7 linked regions of the Homo sapiens genome follow. The protein of the gene in region 1 purifies or fractionates together with the protein of each later gene. This does not show direct contact. Each region holds a gene or a part of one and is shown in the gene's direction. Other genes may lie near its edges. The genes, in order: KLRG2, FGFRL1, PPP3CA, ZDHHC18, STK39, FAM171A2 and PPP3CC.

Region 1 (4,225 bases):
CACGGGAGACGGTGGTTGCAGTAAGCCGAGATTGTGCCACTGCACTCCAGCCTAGGTGGCTGAGCAAGACTCCGTCTCAAAAATAAAAATTAAAAAAATAAAAATAAAAAAGAGACAGCTCTATTCTGTGAAAGTTGTGGAAACCAAGGGGAGGGAGGAGCACCTATTTCACCTTGGAGAGGGTCAGCCCAGTGTCCGTTAAAAAAGCCACCTTTAAATCAGTTCTGAAGGATGGAGGAGGTGGCAGCAACAGGACAATCATCACTCTAATTCCCAGGGCTTGTCTTTGTTGACTTAAACCATTTTCTTAGGGAAGAAGAACTGAGCATATGCGAAATTCATTTATACCGCTCTGCTCCTAACCTGCCTCAGTGTGAATATGTGCTTCTTGACATTGTTGTGAGTGATATGTACTTGCTAGTGTAGTCTTTTTTTTTTTACATGGCATGATTTCATATTTACATTTTCCTGCATAATGACATTTTCTATACACTTGTCATTTTTAATAGCACTATAATTTTCCATCATGTTGACATCCTATAATTTACCTTGTTATTTCTTGATTGCTGAGCGTTTGGGGAGTTTCCAGTTTTTCTTCACAAATAGCACCGTGTTATCTTTAGATAAGTTCATTTTTTTCCCTTTATATTCTTGGATTTATTTCTCAGTGAAATCACCCATTTGAGCAGGAGTGGTGGTGCTGCTCTTGTCACATAGCACCAAACGACATTTCAGAAAGAACAAGCTGATGCGGGCCGTGCCGGCATCACTGCCCCCTCCACCACGTCCCCACCCTGGGACTTAAAAGATTTAAACTTTTTTTTCCAAGTTAAAAAATCTTGGCCGGGCGCGGTGGCTCACGCCTGTAATCCCAGCACTTTGAGAGGCCGAGGCAGGCGGATCACGAGGTCAGGAGATCGAGACCATCTTGGCTAACACGGTGAAACCCCATCTCTACTAAAAATACAAAAAATTAGCCAGGCATGGTGGCGGGTGCCTGTAGTCCCAGCTACTCGGGAGGCTGAGGCAGGAGAATGGCGTGAACCCAGGAGACAGAGCTTGCAGTGAGCCGAGATCGCGCCACTGCACTCCAGCCTGGGCAACAGAGCGAGACTCTGTCTCAAAAAAAAAAAAAAAAAATCTTGGCCGGGTACAGTGGCTCACACCACTAATTCTACACTTTGGGAGGCTAAAATGGACAGATCACTTGAGGCCAGGAGCTCAAGACCAGCCTAGGCCAACACGGCAAAACCCTTCCCTACTAAAAATACGAAAATTACCTGGGTGTGGTGGTGCATGCCTGTAGTTCCAGCCTCTCAGGAGGCTGAGGCGGGAGAATCGGTTGAACCTGAGAGGCGGAGGCTGCAGTGAGCCAGGATCGTGCCACTGCACTCCAGCCTGGGTGACAGAGCAAGGCTCCATCTCAAAAAAAAAAAAATCTTAAATATATACTTTAAAACATTGTCTTTTTTGCTTTAATTCATTGTTAAAAATAGTGTGACATTGAGGGCAAATATTTAAAAGAAAAAAGTCTCCTCTAGTACCTCTCCAGCACACTTACTTTGGTTTTTGTTGTTCCTGCACATCTGCGTGTGTTATTATTATTATTATTATTATTATTATTATTATTATTATTATTATTTTGAGATAGAATTTCCCTCTTGTCAGCCCAGGCTGGAATGCAGTGGCGCAATCTCGGCTTACTGCAACCTCTGTCTCCTGGGCTCAAGCGATTCTCCTGTTTCAGCCTCCCAAGTAGCTGGGATTACAGGCGCCCGCCACCATGCCCAGCTAATTTTTTTTTTTTTAATAGAAACGGGGTTTCACTATGTTGGACAGGCCGGTCTCGAACTCCTGGCCTCAGGTAATCTGCCAGCCTCGGCCTCCCAATGTGCTGGGATTACAGGCATGAGCCACCGTGCCTGACCACCTCCCTCGCTTTCTGAGCTTCCTTGTTTCTTTGCCCACTCAATGCCCACTGAGCATCACTTAGTGGTGTTTGGCGTTCACATCCCTTTGGCTGAGACGGGGTCACCCTCATTTTGGCCCCCAGCCCTGAGCACAGAACCTGGCACCCAGCAGGCATCCAATCCAGCTTTCAAGGTTTTTTTGTTCTGCAAGTGCTGGCTTGAGCAGATCCTTCTGGATTGGCCAGCTGGGATCCTGTGGAAGCCCCAGGGAATCCGTACGCCCCAGGCAAGCCACGCCAGTGTCCAGGGGAGTGACCAGCTTACTTTTCTCCCTCAGGACTTCCTGGGCAGATACCCAGTCTCCAGGCACTCCTGGGTGGGGGCCTGGCGAGGCCCCCAGGGCTGGCACTGGATCGACGAGGCCCCACTCCCGCCCCAGCTGTGAGTGACCACGGGCTTTTCTCCCTCCTCTGCTGTTCTGGATCCTCCATTTCTCCCCAGACTCCACCTCCTTGCTGCTCCCCTAGCCTGGAATGCCACTTGGAAAGCAGCCCACGCCCATGCTCGCGGCCTGGTGCCTGATTAGACCCTGTCGCTTCACTCTTTATTTGGGTTCCCAGCACGTTCACCCAAGCAGGGTTGTCACCCCCATTTTACAGATGCGGGGTCAGCTGCCCAGGGAGGTTTGGGGATTCATCCAGTGCCACGTGGCTGACCAGTGCAGTGACTCACTCAGTGCCCAGGCCGGTAGAGGTGACAGGCACACACGCTGGAGGGTCTGGCTGGGAAGCAAGGCCCCGGCACCCTAAACACCTCTCCTCTTTCCCCTCCCATCCTTTCCCAGACTCCCTGAGGACGGCGAGGACAATCTGGATATCAACTGTGGGGCCCTGGAGGAAGGCACGCTGGTGGCTGCAAACTGCAGCACTCCAAGACCCTGGGTCTGTGCCAAGGGGACCCAGTGATCTGGGCTCTGCCTGGTCCTCAGCCTGCCAGGCAGATGCAGCACCCCCTACAGGGGAGGCCAGTTGAGAGCTTGGGCAGCCTCTTCCTGGACCCAGTTATCCAGGTCTTCATGCTCTGCTCAAGGGGGCCACATGAGCGAGCCTAGGAGCTGGACTTCAACCCAGGAAGATGCATCCGAGGGAAAGGAGATTTTCTATGGCCTCAGGCCTGAGTGCCAATATTAGTCTCCAGCTTCTGTGGATGATCGGTTTGATGACATTGGGATGGTTGTTTAGCATTTCTGTGCCTTGGTTTCATTAAAATGACAATTTCCCCCTAGAGGAAAAAGACAGGGTTAACAACCACAGCGGATTCCAATCTGGGTTCTCATTCCGGCTCATGGAAATGAGTCTGCCGTTGTTCAGTGGCAGTGGGACTTGGCAGGGATAACGTCATTGCTGTGAATTCTACTTCAGGCAGCTGGGTGTACATCGGACACAGCCTACCGGCAGCCTCTGGAAAATTAACCAAGGAAAAGGAGCGGTCAGCCCTGGAAAGAGGGGAGAGCAAGGTTTTCCTTCCCCACCCTGAGAGTTGGCAAAGGGTTGGCAGACAGGAAGGTTCTGGGTGGAGATCCCGCATGTGGGCTGGCCAGCCCCTGGCACGCTGATGCCCAAGGGTGAGACAAGGCAGAGAGGACAGGGCCACCTGGCAGGAGAAGCCAGGAGAGCACCCCAGCTTGGTAGGTGGAAGCTGAGGAGTCTGAGTGAAAAAGGAAATCAGAGAAATGCAGGCACGTTCCAGGCAGCTCTTCTACCCACAGCTGCAGAGACGACCAACCTGAAGATGTCTCCATGCTGGGGTGCAGTGAAGACCTTCAGGCTGGAGGATGTGGCTGACAGAGTTGTGTAGTTCCTTGAGTCCAGCTAGACCTCCAAACAGCAGGAGCCTGGGCCTGCGTGTTGGCTTGGTGCTGAGCACGCACTCAACTGGCCCTTGCAAGCCAGCCTTCCCTCAAAAGTCAGACCATGCACCCAGATCCCTCCCAAACAGAAATCCTTATTGGTGCGTTTGAACCAGTAATGGGCCGTCTGGGAGAATGGGATGGAGAGTCCTAGATGGGAGAAATTTCTCACACTGTATTTTTCATTAGTATTATTATACTTTAAGTTCTGGGGTACATGTGCAGAACGTGCAGGTTTGTTACATAGGTATACACATGCCATGGTGGTTTGCTGCACCCATCAACTTGTCATCTACATTAGAAATTTCTCCTAATGCTATCCCTGCCTTCTCACACTCCTGAAAGTAATAACAAAAAGGGAAATGGAGGCCGGGCACGGTGGCTCATGCCTGTAATCCCAGCATTT
Region 2 (3,611 bases), on another chromosome or scaffold:
TTTCTGCTCCTGTGGGTTTCACAGGTGGTGGGAGGACATACTGGCTGCCCCCCAGACAGGAGCGGCAGTGCCCGTGGTCAGCCCGAGCTACGTCTCTCCAGAGGCTTGCTCTCTGACCCCAGGGCCTTGGGGTCATGCCCCCTCAAGGCTAAGGTGCCTGGCAGGGTACGGCCCTTGGGGGTGGGCAGACAGACCTGGGCATCTGTGGTCCCTGAACTCAGGTCTGATATTGACACAGACGTGGGTGCTGCACAGACTCTCATCCACACATTGCACAGGCTCAGGCAGCCCGCCGTGCTCGGTTGCTTGTGGATAGCTGTGGGGTCGCTGGCCCATGCCCAGGCCCGGCTGGGCCCTGGGCTGATGGTTGGGTGGGAATTAGGTGAGGGGCCTGGGGCCTCTTTGGGACCCACCAGGCCCCCCATCCCCCTACTGCCCTTGTCCTTGGGGGGCCACTGTCCCCTCTGACCTCGGGTGTACGGCTGCTTCCTGTATGACCAGAAGGAGACTCTGCCCTTTTGGTTGGTGGTTTTCGAGAGTTACCAAGCGCAGCTGTTTTGCATCCTCTGGGGACCCTGCTCCCTTCTCGTGTCTCAAAGAGCCAGCCTCTGGGGCCACGGGGCTGCCCCGGCCATGAGAGGCTGCTGACGTGGTGTTTGCTGGGCCAGTGCTCAGGGCTTTGGTGCATGTGGGCAGCTGAGGCCTGGGTCAGGGGCACTGCACCTCGGCCCCTCTGCTCATCTTGGGCAGGTGACCCAGGTGGAGCTCAGGCCCGAGGTCTGTGCTGGGCCGTGGGTCCCCTTTTGACCGCCCCCCCGGCTCCGGACCCCAAGCCCCTCCTCGCTGACTGTTCCTCGGTCCCACCCGCAGGCCCCCCAAAGATGGCGGACAAGGTGGTCCCACGGCAGGTGGCCCGGCTGGGCCGCACTGTGCGGCTGCAGTGCCCAGTGGAGGGGGACCCGCCGCCGCTGACCATGTGGACCAAGGATGGCCGCACCATCCACAGCGGCTGGAGCCGCTTCCGCGTGCTGCCGCAGGGGCTGAAGGTGAAGCAGGTGGAGCGGGAGGATGCCGGCGTGTACGTGTGCAAGGCCACCAACGGCTTCGGCAGCCTGAGCGTCAACTACACCCTCGTCGTGCTGGGTTAGTCGCTGCTGCGGTCAGAGGTCATGGGCTGGGTTGGAGCCAGGCAGGGGTGTGCAGGAGGGCGGACGGGGACACACCTGGGGCCCGAGAGTCAGCCAGCCCCCGGCAGAAAGCCTTCCTTCGGTGCCCTGCCCCACCTCAGCTGGCTGCACCTCTGCCACCATCCCCCAGGTATCCTGTCCCGTTCCTGTCCCCGTCAGGCTCCAGCCTCGGAGCCTTCCTCCCAGCGGAGGGCGGAGGGTGGAGGGCGGGAGCCGAAGGCAGTGGTCCCACAGAAGGGCTGGGGCCCGAGGCCTTGGCAGGGTGTGCCGGCCGTCGGCTGTGACTTTGAGGCTCGGGTTTCGGAGTTCAGAGGAGCCGCCGGGATGCGTGGCCTTTCTGTTCTCTTCTGCGCCTGGGGCCCGGGCGCTGGGCTTGGACAGGTGTCCAGAGAGACACGCCCTCCATACCTAGGGACCCGGCACCCCGCCTGCTCCGCTGGGCTCCTGGGTGTGGGGCCCTCGGGTGGAGCTCCTGGGAGCTGGGCTGGCCCGTTTCTTTTTTTTTTTTAATTCTACTTTAAGTTTTAGGGTACATGTGCCCGTTTTCTGAATACAGGAGCCTGGCCCAGGCCCCAGCAGGGTCTGGGGGTGCGGCCTGAGACAGCCTGGTCCTGGGCTCAGTGAAGGAGCGGCTGTCACAGGGTGGATGGAGGGGACATTCCACAGCACGCCCTGCCCCTCGGCATTGTGTGGAATGGGAAAACTGGCTGTCCCCCACCCCCACCCCACAGTCCTTTCAAAGGGGACGATGACCGGGTGGTATGAGAGTCTCGTCTGTTCACCAGCCCTCGGCCCCTTGATGTAGGCTAGGGTTACTGCAGCTGCTGGCCGGGCCCGGCTCCCTCCTCCCCCGGGGCCTGCAGACCCCCCGGAGCCAGAATGGGGGCCGGCCCTCCAGCCCCACCCGTGCCCATCAGGGTCACCTGCGCCCAGTGTGGGCCAGCGGCCCTTGCCCAGCTGTCCCTGGGATTCTGGGCTGTGGGTGTGTGGCGCAGCCCCCTGCCTGGGTGTCCAGGGCTGTCCCGGCTGGGGCTGGGGGAGCTAGAGGCCACGGGGGAGTTGGGGGAGCTCCTCAGGGCCCCCCTCACCTGCCCTCCCTGTGCACCTCCGTCTCTCTGCAGATGACATTAGCCCAGGGAAGGAGAGCCTGGGGCCCGACAGCTCCTCTGGGGGTCAAGAGGACCCCGCCAGCCAGCAGTGGGGTGAGCAGGGGGTGACGGGGGTGGGGGGCGTCCGTCTGTCCCGGCCCCTTGGCTGCATCCCCGTCCTCTGACCTCCACGCCACCCCACCCCGCAGCACGACCGCGCTTCACACAGCCCTCCAAGATGAGGCGCCGGGTGATCGCACGGCCCGTGGGTAGCTCCGTGCGGCTCAAGTGCGTGGCCAGCGGGCACCCTCGGCCCGACATCACGTGGATGAAGGACGACCAGGCCTTGACGCGCCCAGAGGCCGCTGAGCCCAGGAAGAAGAAGTGGACACTGAGCCTGAAGAACCTGCGGCCGGAGGACAGCGGCAAATACACCTGCCGCGTGTCGAACCGCGCGGGCGCCATCAACGCCACCTACAAGGTGGATGTGATCCGTGAGTGTGGCCCCGGGCGCTGGCGGGCGGGGGGTGCTGGTGGGCGGGGGCGCTGGCGGGCGGGGGTGCTGGTGGGCGGGGGCGCTGGTGGGCGGGGGCACTGGCAGGGCTTGGGGGTGGTGGGCTGGGGGTGCTGGTGGGCCCAGGGTGCTGGCGGGGTAGAGTCCGGCGCGGCCCAGGAGCCATGCCCGCGTGCCACGTTCCCACAGAGCGGACCCGTTCCAAGCCCGTGCTCACAGGCACGCACCCCGTGAACACGACGGTGGACTTCGGGGGGACCACGTCCTTCCAGTGCAAGGTGCGCAGCGACGTGAAGCCGGTGATCCAGTGGCTGAAGCGCGTGGAGTACGGCGCCGAGGGCCGCCACAACTCCACCATCGATGTGGGCGGCCAGAAGTTTGTGGTGCTGCCCACGGGTGACGTGTGGTCGCGGCCCGACGGCTCCTACCTCAATAAGCTGCTCATCACCCGTGCCCGCCAGGACGATGCGGGCATGTACATCTGCCTTGGCGCCAACACCATGGGCTACAGCTTCCGCAGCGCCTTCCTCACCGTGCTGCCAGGTGCGCGGCTGCCACGCCACGCCACACCATGCTGGTGCCCGGACCCGCCCCCTGGGCCCGGCGTCCCACCCACCGGGTGGGGCCCCACCCTTCCCTCCCGGGCCGTGCTGGCCAGGTCATCTGCCGAGGGAGGGCAGCCCAGGGGCACCGTCTCCACAGCCCCTGGGATGGGTCTGGGGTGCTCTCCTGGTCTTTGTGTCGGCGTTCCCCTCCCTACCTCCTTTCCTCTCGCTCTTGCAGACCCAAAACCGCCAGGGCCACCTGTGGCCTCCTCGTCCT
Region 3 (4,225 bases), on another chromosome or scaffold:
TGCATTTGTTTTGATAGAGATCCTGATGTGAGATGTGAAATGTGAAATTTTGTTTATAGAAGTTTTGTTGATGAATCCTGATTTTAAGGTGGATACACTGTTATTGTTTATCCTGTTTTCTTGTAGAATATTATTGGCATGAAAGGCATTATACAAGGTTGGATTCAACCTTTTGTCATACATAAGATTTTTATTATTAGTTATTTGAGATAATCTATTTTGATTATTAGCTTTCTGTGAAATAATATTTCCCCTTGAGTATGTATACACGTACTGAATGAATGGAAAGTACGCGTATGCTGGATGTGAAACATATTAACAAGTGATTTAATTTGCAAAAATTAGATAATATGGAGTTTAGAAACCATTATTTACTTGAAATTTTGTTAGAACTTCATCTCAATGGCTATTTAACTCATTCTTTAATACAGAAAAGAAATTATCTTTGAGGAAGTATTTGTGCTCCATAAGTTTTCTCTTTTTTACGAAGTATGTGTAGTATTATTTACTATATATACATACAAAAATAAATATTCAGATTGTTATTACCATGGCATGCCATGGCATTTGCTTACAGTTATATTTATTAGTGTCATCTGGCTTTTGTTGTATAAGAAATTGCTATTTACAAATAAAGATGTGCTTGTGGTTTGTAGTAATATGATGTGACTGTTTTCTTAATTGTACTTTTAGAATGCAGCTTTAGAGACGTAGGTTGAGTCTGTCTCAACTATGTTATTTTTGAGGTTTATAGAATCTGCTAGCATGTATTCAGAGACCCTGATCGGTTTTCTAAACCTTAAAAATGAAAGAGAATGATGGCAGTGGAGATGAAAAGTATTTGTTTAGATTATCCCAGGAGAGAAAGTTACTTCAGTTAGCAAAACTAGTGCTGTATCATTTTGACTCTTCTTGGATTAAAACAATGGAAAGTAGAAAAATTCAGAGAAAACATCTTGGTAATGACCTTTGCTGGAAATCAAAATAATATGGTCCGTTTATTGCTTTACATTATATTTTTAAAGATACATACAGCAAACCGAGGGCAATAAATAGAAGAATAACTGTCTTCCTCCCCTTGACCCCCGTCCTGATTTTTCTCTTAGTGATACTCTACAGGCCTTGTCTCAAACTTTGGCTTTTCTTCATTTCTCTCTGTTCCTGCCTAGAATGCTTTGTCTGGCCCTAGCATTCCCTATTGGTCATGGAACTTTGCTATGTGATAGTTAAAAATACTTAGAGGAAATTAAACCCTATGTGATAATGAGTATTTGGCTTTGTTAAATCTCTTAACCTACCTTCCCTCTGTTCCCATCTCCAAGTATTTTGTGATGGGACTTCTACCTTAACTCAAACCGATGGTAATGGTAGAAATTTTAGAAACTATGGGAGGCTGTTGAGGGATAAATTTCTGAGAAGAGTTTTGTGGAATCTCTCAGAAACTATAGATAATGCGTTGTTGTGCTTTGTGTAAGGTTGCTTTTGGCCATAGAGAATGAGCTGTTTTTCAGGTGTATTGCCAGCTTACGTACTTCATGTAGACAGAGTACACATAGGAGAATTCTGAAAGATGCTAAGATCATAGAAGCAAGAAGATGCTAGTTAAGTATTATTAAGTAAATAAGGATTCCAGCCACTAGTATTTCTAGCTGGGTGAGACTGATAATACTACTTAAAAAGAAAACAAATATGTCACATTCGTAGTAACTGTCGTGTTTAGACCTTGATGCAACAGAGTAGTAAATAATGTCATTTATTTGTGGTGTTCCAGGAAGAGCTTGTGAATTTATTTTACTGACATTTTGTTACCATCAGTTGAGTTTCATGTATCTGGTTTTCAATTTGAGTATAGTGAAACTTTATTAATTCAATATCATGAATTTAAATTTATTGTGAAAAAACACCAGTGTTTGTTGGCTGAAGTTTACATCAGCATTGGATGTGAAGAAAGGGGTCCGATAACCAAAAAGTATAAACAACATAGTTCCAGCATTGTTAATATACCAAGAGAACAAATTCTTTTCAATACTTAGTGAACAGTATGCAAATTCATCCTGTTCGTTACGAGTTAGGTTGGTCTATTTATTAACATTTCCTTTTGGGACTATTATAAAGTGAATATAACACAAGTGCATTGTTGTAAAAACATTCAGTAAATTTAATGATTAATGCAACAATTGAGACTGGGATTCAGGGGAATTCCAGTGATTCTAAAATGCCATCAATTAGAATAATCAACATTTTGAAGATAATAGTTTTTCTGAGAAGTGTGGGATAGAACCCTTATTTTAAATGGACAGTTTATCTTAAGACATCCAGTTAAAATAGGAAAAAATTAACATCTAGAATCTAATTAATGAGGTTTACTCTAAGATTTGTTTAAAAATATGCCTTTTAAAATCTATTTGTCTCTTTGTTTTATTTGTAATTTTAGCGAGATGAAATATAATTTTGATAGACCATTCATTTATAACTTTTGTAATTGGCCTCTCATGCTTTTCCTTATCTTTTTTTGTGTCAGCTATGTGTAAATTTGAAACTAATTATGACACCAAATAAAGAATCCATTTAGGGTGACCTCATTGGAAAACAGCATTTTTGCAGATACTCACTCTCCTTTTAGCAAATATGGTTAAATTACCATTTTGAATACTTCTAGAACTATGAAGAATGGTGGTGATTCATGATATAGAATTTTGATAATTACTAAAAATCATTTTGTCAATTTTTTTCCAGCAACTTTCTGATGTAGCAGTCTCTTGATATACAAGAGGGATATGGTGAGACCTTGAACTTCAGCTTTCTGTAATTCCACTGGTATATGTTATAACTTCACAGGCTAACTTTCTCTATACATAAAAGGGGAGTAATTGTATCCACTGTCAACTTGTGAGGACCGAAGGATAATCAAATGGGAAATGGGGAGTGTGTGGTTAACACTTTGTCCACTGCCTGGTAATGGCGATTCAGTCACTGCTAACACAGAATTAGAAATGACACGTGTTATGTATTTTCTGGTCACCTGAGAATAGTCAGAACCATTAGCATTGAAAGCCATGAGTGCCTTGGGTCAAGAGTAGCTTATGATGACATTTATTTTTATAGTTAAAGAAGTGGAGACAGAATAGATAGAATGGTTACAGGTAAGTGTAAACACATTATTTTCTTTATTAAAGAGGCTTTTCTTGCTTGAAAACATTTTTGAAAATTGCCACTGGCCAGGTGTGGTGGCTCACACCTATAATCCTAGCACTTTGGGATGCTGAGGTGGAAGCTTGGGCAACATAGCAAGACCATATCTCTTAAAAAAAAAAAAAAGAAAAAGAAAAAAAGAAAATGGCCACTTCTTTTGGTATATTTAAGATATCTTCACATTTCATTTCGCATTTTGTTTTACTAAATAATTAACTATGTAAAATAGTTTGATTAGGAGAGGAAGCTTTTTATATTTCTGTTTTTAGCAGACATCAAATTCTGGTGATAAATATTATAATTTAGTCTGACCTTGGCCTGAGGTTTATAAAGAAATACTGTTAAACATTGCTTTCTGTTCAGGTAAATATATACACAGAAATAGAATAGTATACTCTCCTGCAAAAGAATGTTATTTACTTTCATTTTGAAGGATGTTGTCTTAAGCCTGTTTTTCTGAACTCCACTTAATGACCCACACTGATGCTCTGGTTTGACAAACAAAATCTTCAGATTTGATGATTTTGTTAATTTCTAGAGCAGGCTCAGGTGAAAATATCAGCCAGTGATTCTGAGGTGTTGCATTCCTATTTTTAAAGCAGTCATTAGGTAGGACTGATGTAGGCAATGAAATAGGATTTCAGTTTGTAAATTAAGTCTTTAGTACTCTTGACATTTTCAGCATTTTAAAATCATTTTATTTTACAATAATTCCATCTTTTATATGAATCCATCAATTATATTTCATATGAGAAGTGAAATAACAATTGTGTATTCCTCCATGGTTAGGGGTTCTGAATAATGGCTTAAATCAGATGGGTTATCAACTTTATGACCTAGCCCAGTTGCTGGTATCTCAAATCCGTTTTAACAAATATGCACTCGGGTAGTGGAAGCTTTAGATATTAAAAAAATAAAAGCCCTCACTGACAAAGTGGCAATAAATTATTAAAATGCTATGTTTTTGGAATTCAGGTAGATTCTTTTTGAGACCATCATAGAGAGGAATAGAACTTTGCTGTCCTTTTTGTTT
Region 4 (4,225 bases), on another chromosome or scaffold:
TCCCTCCAGGCATGTCATCCTCCGTGCACACTCCTACCTCTGGGCCAGTGCTTGGAATCCCCTTCCTGCAGGTGGCCTCATGGCTCACTCTCTCACATTAGGCCTCCCCTGTCCATCCGCACAGCATAGCAAACCACTCCCCTCCTGCACCTCTCTTCTCCCCTCATTTATCGCTCTCTGAAGCATTTGCCACCACCTGACATATTATGGTATACTTGTTAGTTTCTGGTCTTTGCCCATGAGAGCAGGACATTCTCCTCTGTTGCACCCTTAGTGCCTAGAACTCGCACCTGGTATGCAGTAGGTGCTCAATACTTATTGAATGAATGAATTGACAGTGTATTTGAATTAATTGACAGTGTATTTGCTGGGAGGCTGGAAACCCTAGTTCTGTCATTGGCTGGCTAGATGACCTTGAACCTAGCTGTGGGCCTGGGAGAGCTGTTAGCCTCTGGCAAATCAGGAGGCTAGGACTTGGTGGTTCCTGCAGGCTCTACAAGTCTTAGATTTCAAGTCTTCTCTGTCCCCCCACACAAGTCTGATTGCATATGAACTGGATTCATTGCCATGTGGGTGACACTGAGCGCCCACTGGTTCTGTTTGAGGGTCAGACCCAGAAACCATTGAGATGTATGGAGCAGAGTGTGACCCACTGGGAGCCCTTGGCCTTGGCAGTCTGCTCCTCAGGGGAAGGGCTTCTCTGAAGGCCAGAGCATCTGATGACGGAGACTTCAGAAGCAGCATGCAGGTGCCCACAGGTGTGTGCCTACTGTGCCACTCCTGGAAGCTTGGTTGATCTCAGGCCTCCCAGGGCCCCGTCATCTCCTTACCTGATCAGGTGCTACTCTGGCTATGGGGTGATGGTTAAAAGTATGAACCTCAAAGTCAGACCTGGCTTGGGTCCCACTTTAGCACTCCTGAGCCATGTGACCTTGGGCAGATTACTTAAACTCTCTGAGCTCTAGTTTCTTCATCTGTAAAGTGGGGAGCATAACTTCACAGGGTCCCAGTGAGGATTTGATGAGAAAGTACACAGGAACTGCTTAGCCTGGTACCTGGCCCATCCAGGTACAGTAGTACAGTAACTATCTGTAGATAGTACAGTAACTATCTACATAGTACAGTAACTATCTGTACATAGCACAGTAACTATCTGTACTTTGGATGTTGCTAACAGTAGTTTATTAATTAGGGCAGTGTCTGGCACATAGTAAGCCTTCAAAAGATGGTAGCTATTTTTCTGTCCCCTGGCAGCAGTTATTTACCGGGTACGTCCTTGGTGCCAGGTGCTGTGCAGTGTGCTGGAAATATAAAGCTGAACAAGAGAACATAGTCTATACCCACAGAGGAGCTTATGTTTTTTTATGTTTGTTTGTTGTTGTTGTTGTTGTTGTTGTTGTTGAGATAGAGTTTTGCTCTTGTTGCCTAGGCTGGAGTGCAATGGCACGATCTCGGCTCACTGCAACCTCTGCCTCCCGGGTTCAAGTGATTCTCCTGTCTCAGCCTCCTGAGTAGCTGGGATTACAGGCACATGCTACCACACCCTGCTAATTTTTCTGTTTTTATTAGAGATGGGGTTTCATCTTATTGGTCAGGCTGGTCTCGAACTCCTGACCTCAGGTATCCGCCCACCTCAGCCTCCCAAAGTGCTGGGATTGCAGGCGTGAGCCACTGCGCCTGGCCAAGCTTATGTTTTAGTGAGAGAAAAATAGCCATCACATAGACAAGTAGCTGAAATCTATACTAAATGTTATACAGGAAAGAAAGAGCATTGAAGTTCACTGTGTACAGAGTTGTCAAGGTAGGTCCTTCTGAGGAGGGAAGAGGAATCTGAGAAAAGGAACAGCAAGTGCAAAGGCCCTGAGGTAGGAGAGAGCCAGGCTTGTTATAGGAACTGTCATGGGCTATTGTGATGGGAGGAGCAGGAGCAAGACGAGAGTTTTGTAGAATGAGGCTGAAGTCCTCAGTAGGGCCCAGATCATGCCTGGCCTAGAAGGCCATGGTAGGGAGTTTGGATTGTATTCAAACTATATGGAAAGCAATTGGGAGGTTTTAAGCAGGGAAATGACATGATCTGATTGACATTTCCAAAAGTGGCTCTGGCTTCTGGGTGGACAGTGAGGTGACAACAGAGAGGATTGGCCATAGAGAGAGAGCCCTGATAGCTTCACTATCATGAAGCCATTCTCCCACCAGTGTCCAGAACTTCTAGAATGTTCTAGCCCTAAGATGGAGGAGGGAGCTTGAAGAGGGCTGTGGTAGGCAGCCTCCCTGGGGGACAGAGGCATGACCATTCAGCAGGCACAGGCTATTCTCTGAGGCAGCCAGGGTCAGGGGGTCTGAAAGCACTGCCTTGGGGATACCTGCCTACCTTGGGTCACAGTGACAGTGGCTGGACCATGCAGTTCCCCCAGCCCTCTACTCATTCTTCAGGTTGGAGCTTAGGATTGTCTCCTTCAGGTTGCCTTTCCTGACTGTGCTACTGCGTTCCCCTCCCCCACTAGAGCACACATCACCCTGTGTGGCAATTCCCTGTTTACATGTCTTGTTTTCCCCACTAGACCATAAGCCACAAGGGGGAGGGACTCTTGTCTTATCCGTCGTCATTATTCCTGCTGCTTATTGAAGGTGTTGCCTGCCACAGAGAAGACCTCAGTAAATATTTGTGGACTGAGTGAGTGAATGAATGAGTGAATGAACACTGCAGGATGGTTTGTCTCAGGTGACAGTCCACTAGTGTCTGCCTGAAGCTCTGTGTGTAGAGGGATTCTCTGGATGCAGAGGTTAGGAGTGCTGGGATCTATTGGACACATCTGCCATGTGCTCTGGAGGAAAGTATATCACAAGGATCAATTAGTGATGTCTGTTCCCGGTACTTATTGGGGAGTGGCTGCACTCATCAAGGAGCTGTGCCTCTGCCTCAGAGCGAGGCTGTATTCAAGATTTTGGTGGTGGTTGTTGGAATGACAGCGCCTGCCACGTGCTGTAGCCCTGTGCCGCAGGGAGCCCTTGGGGTGTCTGCTGATCTCTCTCCATCTCTCGTTCTAGCTGTCCCTACCTGGCTCGCAAGCTGACCCTTGCCATCCCCATCATCGCTGCCATCCTCTTCTTCTTCGTCATGAGCTGCCTGCTGCAGACAAGCTTCACCGACCCTGGGATCCTGCCCCGGGCCACTGTCTGTGAAGCAGCCGCCCTGGAGAAACAGATCGGTGAGGTTTCTACTCCCAGCTGAAGCTGGGTCTCCATAGCTCCACATTCCCTGACTTGGGAGGAGGCCTGGTTTTCTCTTCCAAAACTATACTAGGAACTGGGGATGCAGTCGTGAGCAAGGCAGGCTGGAGCTGACACTGGCACAGAGGGAGACAGATGATCAACAAGTGAGCAAATAAGTAAGCAAGAAATGCTGGCCAGCCAGCAAAGGCCCCGATGGCAGCCAGCGTGGAGCTGAGTAGTTCCTGGGGGCTAGGCACTGTTTTAAGCTCTTTATATGCATGATCTTATTTAATCCCCCAGTAATCCTATGAGGTAGGTACTGTTGTCATTCTCCTTTTACTGATTAATTAAATCAAGGCAAAAGAGGGTCCAAGATCACAAAGTAAGTAGAAGAGCTGAGATGAGACCTCAGTCTAGAGCACCTGCTCTTAAACATTCATATACACTTATTCATTCACTCATCAAACATTTATTGACCCCCTACTATGTGCCAGGCACTTTTCTAGATGTGATACAGCAGTGAACAAAACTGACAATAGTCCCTGTCCTCATGGAGCTTGACAGTTGAGGAGGAGGAAAGAGACAATAAATAACAAATAATTAAATATCTAGGATATCAGACAGAGAAGAAAGGAGGGAAGGAGGATGAAGGCTACAGGGAGGGTGTGTGATTTTACATAGGGTGGCCAGGGAACATCTTGTGAAGGAGGTGACATCTGAGCAAAGAAGCACCGGCCTGAACAGATGAGGGCTTGACGGTGGGGTTATCTAGGGAAGAGCCCAGTAGGTGTTGGGGAGTGGGCTAGTTTAGGTCAGGTGGTCAGGGGAGACCTCTAGGAGGAGGCGGCACTGGAGATGAGTGTGGTAGAAATACGGGGATCTGGGAAAAGTAAGGCCAAAGCCCAGAGTGGCAAACAGCCTGGGCGTGTGTGAGGAACGGCAGTGGCTGGAAAGACCCTGTGCTCCCAGGCAGCCCAGGTGGCCCTTGATTCCTTTCAGACTGCTGTGTGGG
Region 5 (4,225 bases), on another chromosome or scaffold:
CTAGTCTTTTTCCTTTCTTGAACATCCCTGCATGGTCACTTTTTCCAAATGTTGTTCTTCTCTAACGAGAGAGGGAACAACAGCTGTTAATTGAATCAGGTACAAATTCCCTTACCTGGTGCTCAGACTCTGTGGTTGGTTGGGCCCCTCAACAATCTCACCCAGTACTTCCCTGCTTTTAAAAATAATGGCCTCTGTGGAAAAGAAGCTGCTTGTAGGAAAGAACTCTCAGGGTCCCCTGAAGCTATGGGGGCTCCTATTGCTCCAGACTCCCACCCAGCCACTTAGGCATCAGTGTCTCTTTTAACTCATTGTAGCTACATTTTAGGAAGCTCTGAACTCTCAAACATTGATCCCGTTACTCTCTGATCAAAGAGAGTCAATGTTGTTCATGCACAACTCAGGTTCCTTTTCAAAGAGAATAGCAGATACTGTAGAAGTTTGAGGTAGGTGAGGCTTGGGTACTCACCCACAGCTTCCCTTACAGGTTTTAGAGAAATCAACTTTCAGACCAAATTTTGCCCTTCATTAGCAAGCAAGCCCCTAAACAGTTCTCACAATTTGTTCTGTAAGCTCAAGGAAATCCCAGTTCTTTTTCCTCATAGGTGAATGAAAAATTCATTAGAGGCAGACATGCCAAGATTCCAGATGCAGTTTTTGCTTTATCCTTATGCTTGCTACTAGGAATCCAACCATCCACAGAACTGGCTAGGGTATAGTCTACAGTTGGACTGGACTGGATTGTTTTATTCTGTTCATGCAAGAGTAAGGAGTATATCTAAAATATTTTAGCCACTCTCTGGTGCTAAGAACCTTTATTTTCAGCAGTGAAAGCCCATTTCTAACATGTATCATACCTCTCAACAGGTCACTGTTTTCCCTAATAATAACCCCTTTGGACAATCAGTCACCTGGCTTATGCTCATCTATATTTAGATTTGGATAATAGAAATACTTCCAGCAGCTGCCTCTGGCATCCTGAGTCGAGTGCTATCAGAACCCCCCCAGCACTGGACATTCTTGGTTAGAATGCCAGCTGACCACCTAGGTTGTGGTATCACAAACATAATATCACATGGCATATGTTGAAGTATTTTAGGTACATTTTAGACATCATAACCACACAGTTGGCAGACTTTAGTTTTGCGGACTAAATTAGGCAGGAGAAATCGCTTTTCTATTTTTTTAAAAATGAATTTGTTGCCAACTACAGTAAGAAAGGGAGCTTTTTCATAAAGATTCCAATGTTTGGCTTTTTTGGGAAAACTGGGATATCCAGCAATCCTGGGTCTACATTTCTCTATGGCAACTTTCTTCTGGTGCCAAGCAGCAGGGGCCTGCCTTGGACCTTGGTGGGAGGGTGCTGACAGTGGGCTCCAGGGCTTCACACAGGGCCCAGCACTCCTAAAGTCTCCCGTCACAGAGACTGAGCATCAAGGGCCCTTGTCACTGAGACTGTAGCTGTTGTTTTTCAGGACCCTCTTTTCTCCATTGTATTCCTGCCTGGCTGCTGTAGGTGTTTTGAGTTTTTGACCCTTGCAGCTGTCAGTTTTTCTTCTTGGCTCCACACTTGTGCTTTGCTCATGCCGTTTCTTTGTCTGGAATTTGTTTCCTGTTGGACTTGCTCATCCAAGTCTTCACCTCATCTTGAAGGCTGGCTCCAAGACCCACTTTGGAGATAGTCTTCTATGACCATTATGGTTATAGCTCCTCTGCTTCTACACAGACAATATAGTATTTGATTTTATACATCTTATCCTACTTAGGTGGGAATATTCTTTTTTTTTTTTTTCTGAGACGGGCTCACTCTGTTGCCTAGACTGGAGTGCAGTGGCATGATCATGGCTTACTGCGTCCTCGACCTCCTGGGCTCAAGCGATTCTCCCATTTCATCCTCCTGAGTAGCTGAAATTACAGTTGCATGCCACCGCACCCACCTAATGAACTATCATGCCCGACAAATATTGTTGAAGTCAAGAAACATGTCTTCTCCTATTTTATCTCTGCCACTGTAAAATATTTATGCTTATCCCCTCAGCCTGCTTGCCTTGCTTATGAAAAGGCAGTGAGTAGCTTATCGATCTACCTAACAGTTGTTATAAAGAATAGTCATACATGGTAAAAAAAAAAATGAGTCTTATAAATATGAAAGTAATATAGAAATTGAGGCTCGGCATGGTGGCTCATGCTTATAATTCCAGCACGTTGGGAGGCTGAGACAGGAGGATCGCTTGAGCTCAACAGTTTGAGAACACCTTGGGCAACATAGAGAGACCCCATATCTACAAAAAATAAAAATAAATTAGATGGGCATGGTAGCACATGCCTGTAGTCATAGCTGCTTGGGAGGCTGAGGTAGGAGGATCGCTTGAGCATGGGAGGTTGAGGCTGCAGTGAGCCATGATCATGCCACTATGTTCCACCTTGGGCGACAGAGCGAGACTCTGTTTCAAAAAAATAAAATAAATAAATAAAAATAGGCCTAAATAAGAAGCCCAATAAGGCCCAGAAAGTTTAAGTCCCTTTCGGGAGTCATACAGTTGGGTAATAGTCTAGCCTTAGGCCTAATCACTGTTAACACTCAGATCTTGCCCATTAGTCCTGTAATGTTTCCTAGTAGATCTGCCACTCTCCAAATCAGATAACCATACCTGCAGATCCTCCTCAAGGCTTAGTAGCATTCACACATCAAAACTAGACCATGACCAATGTTACTGAAATCAAATTACGCAAAGGTGATGAATGCACATCAAATTACTCACCAAGAGCCAGGGTGCCGGAGATGCTGTGTCATTAACAAGGTCATGCAGAAAGCCTTCTGCTGGTGCACCTGTTCAGCATGGAGGGTTGATGTACCTAGACGACAAAGCATCATGTGCAAGGGCAATGCTGGTGAGGCCAAGGAGGTGATGGGATCAGGGAATAAAAAGTAAGTCATTCAGTAGGCTGGAGCTTACTGTCTGAATCTGAGAGTAGTGATATAGGTTTACGTGTTATGCTGAAGGATTTTGACTTTTTCCTGAGGGGACAGGGAGCCTTGAAAGACTTTTTTTTTTTTTTGAGACAAAGTCTTGCTCTCTTGCCAGGCCAGAGTGGAGTGGCATGATCTCAGCTCACTGCAACCTCCGCCTCCTGGGTTCAAGCGATTCCCCCGCCTCAGCCTCCAGAGTTGCTGGGACTACAGGCGCGTGCCACCAGGCCCAGCTGATTTTTTGTATTTTTTTAGTAGAGATGGGGTTTCACCATGTTGGCCTGGATGGTCTTGAACTCCTGACCTCGTGATCCACTTGCATTGGCCTCCCAAAGTGCTGGGGTTACAGGCATGAGCCACCGCTCCTGTCCTGAAAGTCTTTTAAGGAGGGCTCAGGCCTGTGACATAGAAAGGCCTGGTTGCTGGAGCCTGGATCTGGGGAAAGAAGGGAGATGGGAACTTAGGAGGCTGCTGCAGAAATCTTAGCAAGAAGTAGTGGTGGATTAAATGAAGGCAGTGGCTGTGGAGGAGCAAAGAAGTGGATGGATTCAGAAGGTCTTAGACCCTTTTTGTTATTAGGATGACAGCATTATTTGTTGTTGTTGTTGTTTTTCTTAAAGCAGCATTTACCCATATCCTCCAGTTATTCCTGGAGGCAGGGAGATGGACTGGCTAACTTTATGTGTAGCCTTTGATTCTGTGTTTCTAGAGAAATGTCTGTGGTTTTGTACCCAAGTGAATCTGGCTGCATTCCCTTTGGCTGTATAGATGTACCCCTTAGGAAACAAGGACAGCTTTTCACTGTTACAGTTCTGCCACCTTGTTCTAACTGTCATATGCAAGCTATCTCAATATAATATACCAATTTTTTGTGTATATAACATAAGCACACTATGTACTTTGCTCAAAATGTTCTGTTACTGAGTACATATAATCTGTATACACATCAGCCGTACATAGGAGCAAATTGTATATTTCTTCTGTAGTCATAGAGGGAGTAGATATTAGGATTGTTGTTTTCTGCTCCTGAAATTTTTGTTCTGAGTTTTAAAGACATTTAGCCATCTGTTTATGACTTTAAAGTGAGTGTTCAAAGTGGAGGCTCTGAATGTATGTATCATTACAGATATATTGAAAGGGTATTGTCAATAATAAATGGCTACTATACATCTTTTTCGGCTGTTTTCTAACTTTTTAAAATGTGTAATGTAAGCAGGTAGTATTTTTAAGGAAGTGGAAATATATCTAATGTTA
Region 6 (4,225 bases), on another chromosome or scaffold:
AGGTAACCTGCTTAGAACAGTGCCCAGCATAGCTTAAAGATTAATAAATGTTAGCTGTGACCATATTGTATTGGAATTGTTTGTATGTCTGTCCCCTCCACCCCAACACACACACACACACACACACACACACGACCTAAACTGTCTAATGCAGTAGCCACTAGCTACATATTAAATTGAAGTAAATTAAATTAAAAATTCATTAATTTTTTTTTTTGAGATGGATTCTCACTCTGTTGCCCAGGCTGGAGTACAATGGCATGATCTTGGCTCACTGCAACCTCTGCTGCCTGGGTTCAAGCGATTCTCCTGCCTCAGCCTCCCGAGTAGCTGGGATTACAGGCGCCTGCCACCGCACCTGGCTAATTTTTGTAGTTTTAGTAGAGATGGGGTTTCACCATCTTGGCCAGGCTGGTCTTGAACTCCTGACCTCGTGATCCACCTGCCTTGGAATCCCAAAGTGCTGGGATTACAGGCGTGAGCCACCGCGCTCGGCCTTTTTTTTTTTTTTCTTTTGAGATGGAGTTTCGCTCTTGATGCCCAGACAGGAGTGCAATGGCACAATCTCAGCTCACCGCAACCTCCCCCTCCCAGTTTCAAGTGATTCTCCTGCCTCAGCCTCACGAGCAGCTGGGATTACAGGAATGCACCACCACACCCAGCTAATTTTGTATTTTTAAGAGAGTCAGGGTTTCTCCATGTTGGTCAGGCTGGTCTCCAACTCCTGACCTCAGGTGATCCACCCACCTTGGCTTCCCAAAGTGCTGGGATTATAGGCATGAGCCACTGCACCCACCTAGAAAAAAATCATTACATTTTTAAAAATTAAAAATCCAGTTCCTCAGTCACACTAGCCACATTTCAAATGCTTAACAGCCACGTGTGTCCAGTGGGTACCATAATGGGCAGCACACCTAGAAAACATTCCCATCACAGCAGACGTTCATCTTTGGGCCCCCAGTGTCTAACCTGGTGCCTGCCACATAGTAGACAATACTGTTTGAGGATCTGGATCGCAACATTTTATAGGTTCTATAAGGAAACTTTCTACTAAAACAAGTAAATTGCTGAGGGTCACACAGAGATTTCAGGTCCATGTCCCTTCCAGGTTAACATTCCATGACTGCCCAGCTTTCTCCCCAAGGCATCACCCTCCCTGGCCTTCCAAAGTGGCCTGACCTCATGTCCCCCTTTTCCTTAGATAATGGGTTTCTGCTCTGGTCCCTGGGGATCCCTGTCCATGGTCAAGCCACTGCAGCCCCTCTTTCCCTCCAGGTGCCCGCTCCCAGCCCTTGGTGCAGTTCCAGCGCCGGGCTGCCCGCCTGCCTGTCAGCTCCACCTACAGCCAGCTCTGGGCGTCACTTACGCCTGCCAGCACCCAGCAGGAAATGCGGGCTTTCCCTGCCTTCCTGGGCACTGAGGCCTCCAGCTCAGGTAGGCTGGGTGCCCAGCACGGATGGGGTCTCCCCAGGCTCAGGATCAGCCCTCAGCCCTGTACCCTCTTCCCTCAGGCAATGGCTCCTGGCTGGAGCTGATGCCCCTGACTGCTGTGAGCGTGCACCTGCTGACAGGTAATGGGACAGAGGTGCCGCTCTCAGGCCCCATTCACCTGTCCCTGCCCGTGCCCTCCGAGACTCGTGCCCTCACCGTGGGCACCAGCATTCCAGCCTGGAGATTTGACCCCAAGAGTGGTAAGTGCCTCAGGGGGCTGCAGGTGCTTGAGTTGAGAGAAGAAAGTGGGACTTGAGTGGGAGCGACTCAAGTGTGACAAAACCCCTGCCTCTCCCAGGGCTGTGGGTGCGCAATGGCACTGGTGTAATCCGGAAGGAAGGCCGGCAGCTCTACTGGACCTTCGTCTCCCCCCAGCTGGGGTACTGGGTGGCCGCCATGGCCTCCCCCACGGCTGGTAAGAGTAGTGGGGCAGTGGGCGTAGAGGCCGCGGAGGAGGGGAGCTGGGAGAGCAGACTTCTGAAAGGCAGGAAGGGTGTCTACACCTGAACGCTAAGCCCTCGCCTGGCACAGGGCTGGTCACCATCACGTCGGGCATCCAGGACATCGGCACCTACCACACCATCTTCTTGCTCACCATCCTGGCAGCCCTGGCCCTGCTGGTGCTTATCCTGCTGTGTCTGCTCATCTACTACTGCCGGTGAGCACGGGGCTTCCCTCACCCTCCCCTGCACTTGTACCGGGCCCTGGGGCCCCAAAGATGCATAAAATCCACTTCTGGTCCTCAAGGGGCAGACAGGAAAAGACTTCCTGCAAACATGCTAAGACCTGAAGGGCTGGTGCTGGTGGTTGAAGACAGCGGGGAGGTGGGAGGGGAGGCAGGGCTTAAGGACTTGCAGCCCGGCCCCTCCAGAGAGATCTGCCACTGCCCCTACCAGCCCAGCTCTCTCTCCCAGAGGACTCCAGGCCGGACACACCCATAGACAGCTTAGATGCTCATCCCTGGTTCTCGCAGCACATCCTACATGCAGAGGAGTGCAGAGTTGACCCTGAGGGGATCGCCAAACGGACACGGCGGCTCCCCGCCATCTCTCCTGAGCGCCCCAGGCATTCTCCCCACCTCTTCCACTATATTCGTCTCTTGTCTTGCATCTAAGGGGGTTCGGGGCCTACTTTGGCCCTCACCCTTTCCTGAGCGGCCCCTTCTGCTCCCTCCCTTCCAGGAGGCGCTGCCTGAAGCCGAGGCAACAGCACCGCAAGCTGCAGCTCTCGGGGCCCTCTGACGGTAACAAACGAGACCAGGCCACCTCGATGTCCCAGCTCCACCTCATCTGTGGGGGACCCCTGGAACCCGCCCCGTCGGGGGACCCCGAGGCTCCGCCTCCAGGCCCCCTCCACTCGGCCTTCTCCAGCTCCCGGGACTTGGCCTCCTCCCGGGATGACTTCTTCCGCACCAAGCCGCGCTCTGCCAGCCGCCCGGCCGCCGAGCCTTCGGGTGCCCGCGGGGGCGAGAGCGCCGGGCTCAAGGGCGCTCGCTCGGCCGAGGGCCCCGGCGGGCTGGAGCCCGGCCTAGAGGAGCACCGGCGGGGGCCCTCGGGGGCTGCGGCCTTCCTGCACGAGCCGCCCTCGCCGCCGCCGCCCTTCGACCACTACCTGGGCCACAAGGGGGCGGCCGAGGGCAAGACCCCCGACTTCCTGCTGTCGCAGTCGGTGGACCAGCTGGCGCGGCCGCCGTCGCTGGGCCAGGCGGGGCAGCTCATCTTCTGCGGCTCCATCGACCACCTCAAGGACAACGTCTACCGCAACGTCATGCCCACCCTGGTGATCCCCGCGCACTACGTGCGCCTCGGCGGCGAGGCGGGCGCCGCCGGCGTGGGCGACGAGCCGGCCCCGCCGGAGGGCACGGCACCCGGCCCGGCGCGCGCTTTTCCCCAGCCCGACCCCCAGCGCCCGCAGATGCCGGGCCACTCGGGCCCGGGGGGCGAGGGCGGCGGGGGCGGCGGCGAGGGCTGGGGGGCCGGGCGCGCGGCGCCCGTCAGTGGCTCAGTCACCATCCCTGTGCTATTCAACGAGTCCACCATGGCGCAGCTCAACGGGGAGCTGCAGGCCCTGACCGAGAAGAAGCTGCTGGAACTGGGCGTGAAGCCGCACCCGCGCGCCTGGTTCGTGTCCCTCGACGGGCGCTCCAACTCGCAAGTGCGCCACTCTTACATCGACCTGCAGGCGGGCGGCGGGGCACGCAGCACCGACGCCAGCCTGGACTCGGGCGTAGATGTCCACGAGGCGCGGCCCGCGCGCCGCCGGCCCGCGAGGGAGGAGCGGGAGCGCGCCCCGCCTGCCGCGCCGCCGCCGCCGCCCGCGCCCCCGCGCCTGGCGCTCAGCGAGGACACGGAGCCCAGCAGCAGCGAGAGCCGCACGGGCCTCTGCTCTCCGGAGGACAACTCGCTGACGCCGCTGCTGGACGAGGTGGCGGCGCCCGAGGGCCGGGCGGCCACGGTACCCCGGGGGCGGGGCCGCAGCCGCGGGGACAGCTCCCGCAGCAGCGCCAGCGAGCTGCGGCGCGACTCGCTCACCAGCCCGGAGGACGAGCTGGGGGCGGAGGTGGGCGACGAGGCGGGAGACAAGAAGAGCCCGTGGCAGCGGCGGGAGGAGCGGCCGCTGATGGTGTTCAACGTCAAGTAGCGCCCGCGCAGGGCCTGGCACCGCCCCTCCCGCGCGGGCCCGCACCCAGGGTGCGCGCCCCGGGGGCCCGCGGGGGCCCTCGCGCGTAGCTCCC
Region 7 (4,225 bases), on another chromosome or scaffold:
AAGATGGCCAAAATATAATTAATATTTACTCTATTTAAAAGTAAACCATGGAATGGCACATCTCATTTAAATCCGATTTGGGTCAGTCATTTTAGTGTGTCCTCCAGTGACTTGTCTATTTTAAAAAGCATGTCTTTAACTTAAGTTCTGTCCTAGTCTTATGTTTTCATTTAACTTAGCATTCTTCTCTGAGCCTTATCTGTCCTACAATGCTCTGCTTCTCCCTAAGTTCATTTGTTATTTCCTTTTTCCTGATATTTCCAGTATATTAGCAACTTAGGTTTTATTCTTATTTATTCTCTTATCAATGGTGTGGACTGTTTGTGTTGTTAAACGTCTTCAAGGACTCTTGTGGCCCTAGATCTCCTATTTGTAATGAAGGTGTTTCTTTCTCACTTTCTTTTTTAACTTCATCAAAAAGAGTATCTATTGATTGCTCAATGGATTTATCAGTGTGCCAAGCTGAAACACGCCACCTAAGTCAGCAGGCACTATACAGCTCACTCACTGCTAGCTTGTTTTTTGTCTCAATCTAACCTGGTTTTGTTCTTGATTATTTCTTTAGCAAACTTTTAACATCACAGTCCTGGCCAGGCACAGTGGCTCATGCCTGTAATCTCAGCACTTTGGGAGGCCAAGGGGAGGATCACTTGAGGCCTAGAATTCAAGACCAGCCTGGGCAGCAAAATGTGACCCCATCTTTACAAAGAAAAATTTAAAAGTTAGCCAGGCAAGGTGGAGCATGCCTATAGTCCTAGCTACTCAGGAGGCTGAGGCAGTAGGATCCTTTGAGTCCAGTAGTTCGAGGCTGCAGTGAGCTGTGATCACACCACTGCATTCCAGCCAGGCAATAGAGCAAGACCCTGTCTCTAAAAAATAAAAAAAAAAGTAAAAGCCACAGTTCATTCTACCTGAGTATTCTGTCGGCTTTGACATAATTAGTAACTTTTATCTCAAAACAGTCTTATTTTCATTGGTTGTTTCTTAGGCATTTTAGAAGGAAAAAGGCAGAAAATGTGGCATTTGAAACAGTCCCTGGGGGTACTCAGTTACTCCCCATACAAGTGCCTTCTTTTCTGAAAAAGGGAACTCTATTATTCTTTTTCTTCTTCCTTTTCTTCTACTGTTGCTCTTCTTTCTCTTTCTCTCTTTTCTTTTCTCTCTCTTTCTCTCTCTCTTTCTTTTCTTTCTTTTTCTTTCTGCTTCCTTTTCTTCTTTCTTTCTTTCTTTCTTTCTTTCTTTCTTTCTTTCTTTCTTTCTCTCCCTCTCTCTCTCTCTCTTTCTTTCTCTCTCTCTCTCTTTCTCTCGGTCTCTGTCACTTAGGTTGGAGCACAGTGGCAGGAACTTGATTCACTGCAGCCTCGACTTCCTGGGCTCAAGTGATCCTCCCACCTCAGCCTCCCAACTAGCTGGGACCACAGGTGCATGCCGCTACACCTGGCTAATTTTAAAATATTTTTTATAGAGATAGGGTCTCGTTATGTTGCCCAGACTGGTCTCAAACTCCTGAGCTTAAGCAGTCCTCCTGCCTCGGCCTCCCAAAGTGCTGGTATTACAAGTGTGTGCCACCACACCTGGCCTCTTTCATATTATTTTTTTTTTTTCAGAGACAGAGTCTCACTGTGTTGCCCAGGCTGGAGTGCAGTGGTGCGGTCTTGGCTCACTACAACCTCTGCCTCCCGGGTTCAAGCAATTCTCCCGCCTCAGCCTCCCGAGTAGCTGGGACTACAGGTGCACGTCGCCACGCCTGGCTAATTTTTTTTATTTTAGTAGAGACGGGGTTTTACCATGTTGCCCAGGCTGGTCTCAATCTCCTGAGCTCAGGCAATCTGCCCACCTCGGCCTCCCAAAGTGCTAGGAGTGCTCTTTCATATTCTTTAGACTTCTTGGTATCTACAGGTATTTCCTAGTTCCACTAGTTACACGAAAGACCTTTAATCATGATTTTTAAAGATTCTTATTCTTGTTTTCTTCTGTCCACTGGGAACACACCCAAAAGCAGTTTTATAAGCTCTTGTTTCCAGTCATTCACTGTTGAGACTCACCTCCCACTTCTTTTTCCTGGGTAGAAATTGAGGGAGTTGTTGAATAATGATATATGACATATTTACCTAAACTAAATAAAATACATACACGTGAAAATAATGGAACATGTACATCATAGCCAGTGTTAGGCTTTTTAAGTGCTAGAAACTATATTTTAATTTATTTTCTTAATAATATATGGTGTACATTTTAGACATTCAATAACTTAAATTTTAAGAACACTAGATTATCCTGTAGCAAAGAAACAGGAATGAGGACGTGACCTATATCTGTCATTTCTGGAGAACTGTTACACCCTGTTTTATTTTATGACCACAGAATAATTAAGAGAATAGTGCAAACAACATTGCTGGTGATAAAGGCTAAGGAATTGGATTTTAAGACTTTCAAAATATAAAGAAAATCAGTTTGGCATCAAAGTATGTGTGCGACTATCTGAATGGTTAATATTAAACATAGCATGCTGGCAATACACTGCTGTGTATTGGAGAAATCGGCAATTTTAAAATCCGCTATATTGAATACAGAGATGACTTAATCTAATTTTGAACATTTAATTGTAAATTGCTCCAAGTTTGCCATTTGTATCTTCCAGTATGAGTTGATAACTGCAATATATAAACTCCCAGAGAGTGTATACAATCTTTGACTCTGGCTAATGACTAGCAAAACAGGCTGTGTCCATTTAATGAGTAATTTTTGCCTTCAAAGGAGAGTTGTAATTATAACCATTTGGCCTATAAAAGGAAATTATGGGGAAATTTTCCTCACGTGGATCTTGAGGTTTATATAGATAGTTACTGTGCAGTGACTCCAAAGTTTCAGTTTCTTTTGTACTTTTATTATATGAGCTCTTCAGGTAACTTTGTTCCTTGGAATAATTCTTAAGAGAATGAACTGAATAAAAGGCTTTAAAATTTTCCATCTGCCCTTTACCTAGTCAAGTCCTGACTTTACAAATGGAAAGTTCTCGAATTCTGTGTAGCAGGTACACAGCTGTACAAAGCATACCACTTGCCATGCCATGTTCCTCTGTGCCAGATTTTCTTGCTTTTTTCCTTTTTAGCTGCTGTGTTGAAATATGAAAACAATGTCATGAATATCAGGCAGTTTAACTGTTCTCCACACCCCTACTGGCTTCCAAACTTTATGGATGTTTTCACATGGTCTTTGCCTTTTGTTGGGGAAAAAGGTAAGAGAACTAAAGCACATGTCTCATCAGTTGTTTGGTGACTGAGCATACCTTATATTTGCATGAGCCCCTCCATGATTCAGAAATGTTTTCTAATTTTGTTTGTTCTCTACATAGATTTTTTTTTTTTTTTTCTGAGATGGAGTCTCGCTCTGTCACCCAGGCTGGAGTGCAGTGGCACGATCTCAGCTAACTACAACCTCCGCCTCCCAGGTTCAAGCAATTCTCCTGCCTCAGCCTTCTGAGGAGCTGGGATTATAGGCACGTGCCACTGCACCCGGCTAATTTTTGCATTTTAGTAGAGACAGGGTTTCACCATATTGGCCAGGCTGGTCTCAAACTCCTGACCTTAAGTGATCCGCCCTCCTCAGCCTCCCAAAGTGCTGGGATTACAGGTGTGAGCCACCGTGCCCAGCCTCTACATAGATTTGTAAATGGCATGTAATTGGTTCTTAAATTTTAATATATTATGGTTTTTTTATTGTAAATATCAATTTAAAGTAGCTGACCTACTATGATCAAGATGTTAAAATAACATAGTTACTTGTCATTCCCTCAGATTTCTTCAGTACTGAAGAGATTTAAACAGAATTTATTGTCCTTACAATTTTATTTGTACAGCTACTCAAATTAGCTAAGCCTGTTGGACGTAGGCCTGTTGGCTTAACTTTGTAAAGTGGGAAAAAAATTTTCTCACGTGTGTATCAGTGTGGGAAGAAGCTCTGAACAGCAATCCGGTAAAATCAAGTAATTAGGCAATAGATCTTCAAAGACTCCAGACTTTTACTGGAGCAAGTAATCTACCCAAATTCTTTTTAAACCTGAAAGTTTACATTTATGCTACTTTTTATAGCTATTCTTACTAACATAATGATAAATAATTTTTGCTTATGCTTACTTAACATGTGTGTTTATTTAGATATCCACATTATTTTAGAGAAAGTACCTCATTAATCGCGTAAATTTTGGATTATTTTGTCTTACTTA

The links.
Region 2: the proteins of KLRG2 (region 1) and FGFRL1 purify together in Homo sapiens (affinity purification with mass spectrometry; 2 studies listed by BioGRID and IntAct, with this or other methods). This does not show direct contact.
Region 3: the proteins of KLRG2 (region 1) and PPP3CA purify together in Homo sapiens (co-immunoprecipitation; 3 studies listed by BioGRID and IntAct, with this or other methods). This does not show direct contact.
Region 4: the proteins of KLRG2 (region 1) and ZDHHC18 purify together in Homo sapiens (affinity purification with mass spectrometry; 2 studies listed by BioGRID and IntAct, with this or other methods). This does not show direct contact.
Region 5: the proteins of KLRG2 (region 1) and STK39 purify together in Homo sapiens (affinity purification with mass spectrometry; 2 studies listed by BioGRID and IntAct, with this or other methods). This does not show direct contact.
Region 6: the proteins of KLRG2 (region 1) and FAM171A2 purify together in Homo sapiens (affinity purification with mass spectrometry; 2 studies listed by BioGRID and IntAct, with this or other methods). This does not show direct contact.
Region 7: the proteins of KLRG2 (region 1) and PPP3CC purify together in Homo sapiens (affinity purification with mass spectrometry; 2 studies listed by BioGRID and IntAct, with this or other methods). This does not show direct contact.

The regions. Positions count from the first base shown.
Region 1 is NC_000007.14:139,452,237-139,456,461, reverse strand, and holds the end of KLRG2 (killer cell lectin-like receptor subfamily G member 2), read left to right. Parts: intron 1-2,247; coding exon 2,248-2,351; intron 2,352-2,754; coding exon 2,755-2,875; 3' UTR 2,876-3,772; downstream 3,773-4,225.
Region 2 is NC_000004.12:1,021,333-1,024,943, forward strand, and holds part of FGFRL1 (fibroblast growth factor receptor-like 1 precursor), read left to right. Parts: intron 1-870; coding exon 871-1,143; intron 1,144-2,308; coding exon 2,309-2,389; intron 2,390-2,484; coding exon 2,485-2,769; intron 2,770-2,978; coding exon 2,979-3,332; intron 3,333-3,572; coding exon 3,573-3,611. UniProt on the Homo sapiens protein: Has a negative effect on cell proliferation.
Region 3 is NC_000004.12:101,340,302-101,344,526, reverse strand, and holds part of PPP3CA (protein phosphatase 3 catalytic subunit alpha), read left to right. Parts: intron 1-4,225. UniProt on the Homo sapiens protein: Calcium-dependent, calmodulin-stimulated protein phosphatase which plays an essential role in the transduction of intracellular Ca(2+)-mediated signals. Many of the substrates contain a PxIxIT motif and/or a LxVP motif.
Region 4 is NC_000001.11:26,829,399-26,833,623, forward strand, and holds part of ZDHHC18 (palmitoyltransferase ZDHHC18), read left to right. Parts: intron 1-3,048; coding exon 3,049-3,209; intron 3,210-4,225. UniProt on the Homo sapiens protein: Palmitoyltransferase that catalyzes the addition of palmitate onto various protein substrates, such as CGAS, HRAS and LCK. Acts as a negative regulator of the cGAS-STING pathway be mediating palmitoylation and inactivation of CGAS.
Region 5 is NC_000002.12:168,142,548-168,146,772, reverse strand, and holds part of STK39 (STE20/SPS1-related proline-alanine-rich protein kinase), read left to right. Parts: intron 1-4,225. UniProt on the Homo sapiens protein: Effector serine/threonine-protein kinase component of the WNK-SPAK/OSR1 kinase cascade, which is involved in various processes, such as ion transport, response to hypertonic stress and blood pressure.
Region 6 is NC_000017.11:44,353,639-44,357,863, reverse strand, and holds part of FAM171A2 (protein FAM171A2 precursor), read left to right. Parts: intron 1-1,275; coding exon 1,276-1,434; intron 1,435-1,511; coding exon 1,512-1,691; intron 1,692-1,789; coding exon 1,790-1,906; intron 1,907-2,022; coding exon 2,023-2,149; intron 2,150-2,672; coding exon 2,673-4,131; 3' UTR 4,132-4,225.
Region 7 is NC_000008.11:22,524,280-22,528,504, forward strand, and holds part of PPP3CC (serine/threonine-protein phosphatase 2B catalytic subunit gamma isoform), read left to right. Parts: intron 1-3,112; coding exon 3,113-3,238; intron 3,239-4,225. UniProt on the Homo sapiens protein: Calcium-dependent, calmodulin-stimulated protein phosphatase which plays an essential role in the transduction of intracellular Ca(2+)-mediated signals. Dephosphorylates and activates transcription factor NFATC1.